Linked DNA regions of Homo sapiens: region 1 is reported to be linked to region 2. The links are microRNA targets in miRTarBase. Many come from high-throughput screens and were not tested one by one. Region 2 holds a microRNA gene; the other region holds the end of a gene's coding sequence.

What was found. The annotated mature microRNA hsa-miR-7152-5p reads UUUCCUGUCCUCCAACCAGACC and lies in region 2 at 1,333-1,354, shown strand. An mRNA with a match to its seed (bases 2 to 7 or 8) in the 3' UTR can be bound and repressed. Matches are read on the target gene's strand: a 7mer-m8 pairs with bases 2 to 8, a 7mer-A1 pairs with bases 2 to 7 and ends in A, and an 8mer does both.
Region 1: miRTarBase lists ARMC10 as a target of hsa-miR-7152-5p. The part of its 3' UTR that is shown has no 7-base or 8-base seed match.

Annotation. Positions count from the first base shown.
Region 1 is chr7:103,098,329-103,101,909 of GRCh38, forward strand. ARMC10 (armadillo repeat containing 10) reads left to right here. Exons shown (of 7, transcript NM_031905.5): 7 at 1-1,431. The coding sequence ends at 225. NAPEPLD (N-acyl phosphatidylethanolamine phospholipase D) reads right to left here. Exons shown (of 5, transcript NM_001122838.3): 5 at 1,448-3,581. Among named protein-coding and RNA genes, the nearest start is that of ARMC10, 25 kb to the left of the region's middle.
Region 2 is chr10:71,789,415-71,792,414 of GRCh38, forward strand. It overlaps MIR7152 (microRNA 7152), which reads left to right and starts at 1,333; the gene lies at 1,333-1,386. CDH23 (cadherin related 23) reads left to right here. Exons shown (of 70, transcript NM_022124.6): 46 at 874-999; 47 at 1,718-1,921. RefSeq lists an enhancer at 874-1,773.

The DNA.
Region 1 (3,581 bases), not on the chromosome of region 2:
AGCCACGTAGCAAAGGAGATTCTTCTTCGAGTACTTACGCTATTTCAGAATATAAAGAACTGCCTCAAAATAGAAGGCCATTTAGCTGTGCAGCCTACTTTCACTGAAGGTTCATTGTTTTTCCTGTTACATGGAGAAGAATGTGCCCAGAAAATAAGAGCTTTAGTTGATCACCATGATGCAGAGGTGAAGGAAAAGGTTGTAACAATAATACCCAAAATCTGATTGGTCATATTTTTCCAAAGAGTAATGCAGTCTGGATATAAACGTATTTTCTGTCTTCCTTATAAGGGGATTCTCCCAGCTGCTAAATTTAAACAGTAAATATCACATTTTGTCATTAACACAGCTATAACTTGCCGTGGTTCTCAGATTTATTTTGGACTATTTTGATGCCAAGTGAATATAAGAGCTTGTACTGAAACCATTTATTTCTTTCTATTTTGCTATTTGCAAATGCTTGTTATCTTCCCTACATGAAGTGGCAGTAACCTTTTTCACATTTAAGCTACCCTTCTACCTTTTGAAGTGATTTGCAGTTACTCATCTGAGACAGCATCAGTATTTGACTAAATCATTGTTTCACAACTGAATAGTCTTGTTCTTTTAGTAGCAACGAAATCCTAAGCTCTTGAGGCCATTCACCTGCCAACCTGACCATACTGCTTTCAAAAGTCTTTTCTCATCAGTAGAATCTATTTTGGTCACTTCTAGTCAATGAAAAATGTAAACTTTTAGGAGAGAATGTTTCTTAGGACTCACCCACTCCATTCAATGTTATATATAAAATAGTGTGATCAATCACAATGTCCATCTTTAGACAGTTGGTTAAATAAATTATCTGGTCTTTGAAAAGACCGTGCTGGGCGCGGTGGCTCTTGCCTGTAATCCCAGCACTTTGGGAGGCTGAGGCGGGCAGATCACCTGAGATCGGGAGTTTGAGACCAAGCCTGACCAATATGGAGAAACCCTGTCTCTACTAAGAACACAAAATTAGCTGGGCATGGTGGTGCATGCCTGTAATCCCAGCTACTTGGGAGGCCGAGGCAGGAGAATTGCTTGAACCCGGGAGGCAGAGGTTGCAGTGAGCTGAGATAGCGCCATTGCACTCCAGCCTGGGCAACAAGAGCAAAACTCTGTCTCAAAAAAAAAAAAAAATGATGGAGCTCCGAATGTGCTTAAGTGGAAAGATATCTATGAAATATGGTGGTTTTTTAAAACACAAAAATTATAGAATATGGGATCCCGTGTGTGTGTGTGTGTGTTTGAATGAAAAATGCTTATGTATTGACAGAACACTTCTAGAATGATACCCAAACTCCTGGAGTGGGAGTGGGGAATGCCTTCTACGTACACACTGTTCTACTGTTTGAATTTTTTAATATGAGCCCAAATTGTATAATCTTTTTTTAATAAAGGGGAGAAAAATCACTTACAAGGTTATACATATTTTTTCCCTTGACAGTACTTTATTAATTTTCATCCATATTTTACTTGACTAAAAATACAATGTATGAAAATTTATCTTTAATAGCATTTTCCATAAGCTACTATAACAATTTATTGATACATCTGGGATTCAGCCAGGTCTTATAGTATTTAAATTTATAACCCCTGCCATGCTTAGCATTAAGTAAATCAGTATGCAAGCAGTATTTAAGGCAAAGCTTTAAGAATACTTTAAATTTCATTTGTAAATACATAGATGCAAGACTGTTTCCATAGGAAGTCACAAATCCTCAAACAGAAATATGTGTGTTCTCAATGTTACCCTGATACAGAAATCAAACTTGGAAGAAATATTTTTACATTAGAAAAAGGACTCAGTATAAGGTGAAAACAAAATTCCCAGTGGGCTAGACATGAACAAAAGTATTCATTCCCCAAAAGGCACATTTCTTTATAACGGTTTTTTCAAATCTACCTCCCTATTTAATGAAAGCATATTCATTAAATATGAAACTATGCATACATTAAAAACCAGGATTTGTTTTTAATGTGCTTTAGCAGCAGTAGATTCTAAAACTGTGTCTTCTTGTCCTCTCATTAGTTTGAATAATCACACTCCCTAGAGATCAGAGCATTGAGTCTGAAATGTCAAAATGCTAGAGAAAAGAGGGAGTAATTTTTAACTACCCAGAAAGAAGATGCACAAATACATCTTTTCCTACGTAGGTCACGGCATATGTTGGCTTTTATAATTTGGGATTTCTCCTAATTGATGACCCACCCTATTGGGCAGTGAGGCATAGCAAAGTATTCCTCAGTTATCACAGGAAACTTCAATAAAATCTTACATATTGCTATGGGTATTCACGAAGAGGAAAATGAAGTTGACTTAGAGGATAAGACTGATTAAAAGACACTACAATGCATATTAGACTGAATTGAAGAAGAGAATGGATTTGTCTTATTTTTCAAAATTTGTTTTCACTTTGCACATAAACCCTTCAAAATGTAGATAACAAATGAAAAATAAAGTGGAACCCACTCAATAAGGTGAGATTCTGTAAGCAGAGATGAAGCTTGATGTTCTTAATGAATAGTGTCAGTGTAGAAAGAACATGAGTGGTAATAAAAAATTACAGCTTACAAAAGGGCCTAGAAAAATGAGGCAGGCCAGACGAGTGGAAATAGAACACAACAGTTTAAAGTGCTTTGAGACCCTCAGTTAAACAGTACACGTGAATACAAAATAATGTTAAGGCCATTCATGGAGAAGAAATACTTAAGCAAGACATACCTGGCTTGCTTCATAGAGAAGAGGTAAGAGATGGATTTTCAATTCGGCGTGCAGCAGCAGGGAATATGGCTACAACAACGCTGGCTAGTATTAGGGCAACACACCTCAAAGCTAACTCACCATAAACCTAACATCTTGATTCACATCTGCTTGGAGTGAAAAAGTTTATGATCAGTCTTTTCAGGAAGGTTTATTTTATGGGGGATTTTTTTGTGCTTTAGTACCCCAAAATCACATATGTTCGCATACATCATATACACACACATTGCATACACATTTCCCCTTGACTGATTCGCATCTTTGTAGATAAACACTAAATTTTGATAAAGATTATTTACACTTATTTAGGCTATTACTCCAATTTAAAAATCAGTGAAAGTTTTCAATGTTTAGTCTCCTAATATATAATGCTTAAATTTGCAACAGGAACAATACATTATCAAAAGCATTAACCTGTATTTAGCTTTCAAATATACCTGTCTATATTAGGCAGTGATATCTTAAGAAATCATTTTCTCCCTTATATTTTCTAAAGTGCTTTAAAAACTCATTTAATCTACACATTTTTCAGAGGTAGGTCGGAATTATCCTCTTGTTGCAAATGAGGAAACAGGCACAGTGAGCACTGGTGACTTGTTTCAGGTTACACAAAAAAATCCATGATGAAAGCAGGGTAAAAGTTCAGATTTAGTGGCTAACGTGGCACCACACATACAGGTGTGCAAATAAATTATAGAGCACTGCCTGGGTAGCATTTGGTGTAGAAAACCTATTTTGATTATTTTGTATGAATAAAGTGCTGAGACTGGATTAGGAATACAGAATGGGCCTCCAGTGG
Region 2 (3,000 bases):
CCTGGGGAGCATCTATAACTAGAAGTGGGAGGTCAGGGGGTCCTGGGTAGGCCAGTGTAGCCCTCTCCCCACACACATGCACTGACCAGGCTCACCTCCCTCCAGAGGGACAGAATCTCCTCTGTGATGTCCCCTGAGGTGGCACCTGCACTCCTCCAGTCTCCCCAGCCCCTGTTCCTCATCTCTGGCTGGGCATCCCCCCTAGGTGAATTTCATTCTTAAACCTGTCTGTGTGTATGCTCACACATGTGCCCGTGTGTGTCCATACCAAGGCATGTGCGTGGGGTTACACATGTGCACAGACACATATAGGTACATGGGTGCCCACTGATGCGCTCGTGTGCAGACATGCCCACCTGCAGAGGCACACGAGTGCACAACCAGGGAATCCCAGGCCTGTGCGTGCTCCTGGACAAGTGCCTGTGGCCATGTGAACACAGAACTTGATGCACACATGAGTGGGTTTTTCTAGTCATGTATGGCCAGGCCCCCAAAGGCAGAGCATTGTGTGAACACATGTGTTGACAGGCGAGACCCACACATGGGGAGGGGATGTCAGGGAGCCCCAGACCCTCCCGAGGAGCGGCCAGCCTCAAAGGCTGCTGGGAAGGCAGATGTGGCTCTGGGCAGCCGGGGCCTTGCTCACCACTCTCATGTTTTCTCCCCAGCAGGGCTTTGAGGCCGCTCCCCAGGCATCTGCGTTCAGTCTGCCAAGGCTGCCGCAGGCCCGCCCCCAGGGCCTCCCCACCCTGTCCACCTCACCTCCCTCCCCTCTCATCCATCGTCAGCCATGGCTCACCGGGACAGGGCAGGGGAGGTGGGAGGGCAGGGGGCTGGGTTGGTCTTGTGGTGACCCCTCTCCTTCTGGCCCAGGCACCCCTCTCACGGTGCTCAATGGGCCCATCCTGGCCCTGGATGCAGACCAAGACATCTACGCCGTGGTGACCTACCAGCTGCTGGGTGCCCAGAGTGGCCTCTTTGACATCAACAGCAGCACCGGTGAGGCCTCTGTGCCACCCAGCACTCCCAGCCTGATTCTGGGGTGGGGATGGCCACACTGCTGGATTGAGGGCCTCCCTTCTCAGTGCTGGACCCAGGCTGTCCGTGGAGACCCCATTTTTCACAGCCCAGAGTCCCCATCTTGCAGCTGGGTTATATCACCCAGTGGCCTGGCAGGGGGACGTGGGAAGAGGCTTGGAGACGATACACAGGACCTCTGTTGGTGCACGAACTCTCAGCCTGGGCCGGGAGCCCCCCAGCCCACTCCCGTCATCTCCCCATGCGCAGGCCAGAGGCTCAGGCCCCTAGTCCAGCAGAAGTAGCCAGAGCGACTTTCCTGTCCTCCAACCAGACCATGCCACATCCGTCTGGTCCTGGACAGGAGGCCGCTTTGGTGACAGGTGCCGACAGGAAAGCACATCTGTCAACAGAGACGGTCAACCCTGTGCCCTGGGTCACTCTTCCCAGGCAAGAGTCTTGAAGACAGCAGAGGGCACCTGCAGAGGGGACAACCACAGGAAATGCATGGGGCCCTCCCTCAGCACGGGTGGTTGAGCCTGTGGGGGAGAAAGTCATTTTGTTACTGCCTCTGCTCCTCTTTCATCTCTGTCCCATGGTGCCCCTGTCTTTCTCTGCTCTCTCCCTGTTGGTTCTTGCCCTGTCTTCCCACCGCACCCCTTTTCTGTGTGTTTCCCTGGCTGGCGGCACCGGGTGCCAGGTGTGGTGACCGTGAGGTCAGGTGTCATCATTGACCGGGAGGCATTCTCGCCACCCATCCTGGAGCTGCTGCTGCTGGCTGAGGACATCGGGCTGCTCAACAGCACGGCCCACCTGCTCATCACCATCCTGGATGACAATGACAACCGGCCCACCTTTAGCCCTGCCACCCTCACTGTCCATCTGCTAGAGAACTGCCCGCCTGGTAAGCAGGGGACAGGCCCCAGCACCCCACAACCAGGGGCCGGTTGGTGGTCACAGGGGACTGGAGCCTCAGGTTGGACACGGAGTTTGCCTCCAGTGGGGAGAAAGATGGGCAGCAGGGTGAGTGTAGAACACACTGGAGAGGGAGTCAGGAGACCTGGGCCCCTGCTTCCCTCCTCTGAGCTTCTGTATCTTGCCTGCAAAACAAGATTCTTTTTTCCTTTCTTTCTTTTTCTTTTCTTTTCTTTTTTTTTTTTTAAGACGGAGTTTTGCTCTTGTTGCCCAGGCTGGAGTGCAATGGCACAATCTCGGCTCACTGCAACCTCAGCCTCCCAGGTTCAAGTGATTCTCCTGCCTCAGCCTCCCGAGTAGCTGGGATTACAGGCGCCCACCACCACACCCAGCTAATTTTTGTATTTTTAGTAGAGACGGGGTTTCACCCTGTTGGCCAGGCTGGTCGCAAACTCCTGACCTCAGGTGATCCACTCGCCTCAGCCTCCCAAAGTGCTGGGATTACAGGTGTGAGCCACCACGCCTGGCCTACAAGATTCCTAAGTATTCTCCATTTGAATTCCCAGATGGAAAGACTGACTATTTTAAAGTCAAAATAGGATCAACATGATTCCCATCAAAATCAAATATAACTTCTGGAAGAATAAGAAAATTTTGAAAAACATAAGTATAATAAGCCAGATTTGGCTTACCAGATTTTATAACATATTATAAAGCTACAGTATTTAAGGCCATGCAATATGGGCACAAGACTCCAGGACAAAGTAGCCCAGAAACAGATACTGGTAAATTAAAGAATAAAATATGATGTGATAAAGGAAGCAATGAGGCCAATGGGGAAGCTACTTATTCAGTGTGCAAAAACCTATTTAATCTAATCAATTACATCCAATTATTATAATCTGTATGTAATCTAATATAATAATAATGTAATATTTAGTGTAGATTCTCCCCCATGTCAGACACCAAAATAAAAACCAAAAGAAAATATTAAAAAGTAGAAAACACTAAACAATAAATGAAGAAAACTTAGGTGAATAACTCATTTCTGGGTAAGAAGGTTCTAAG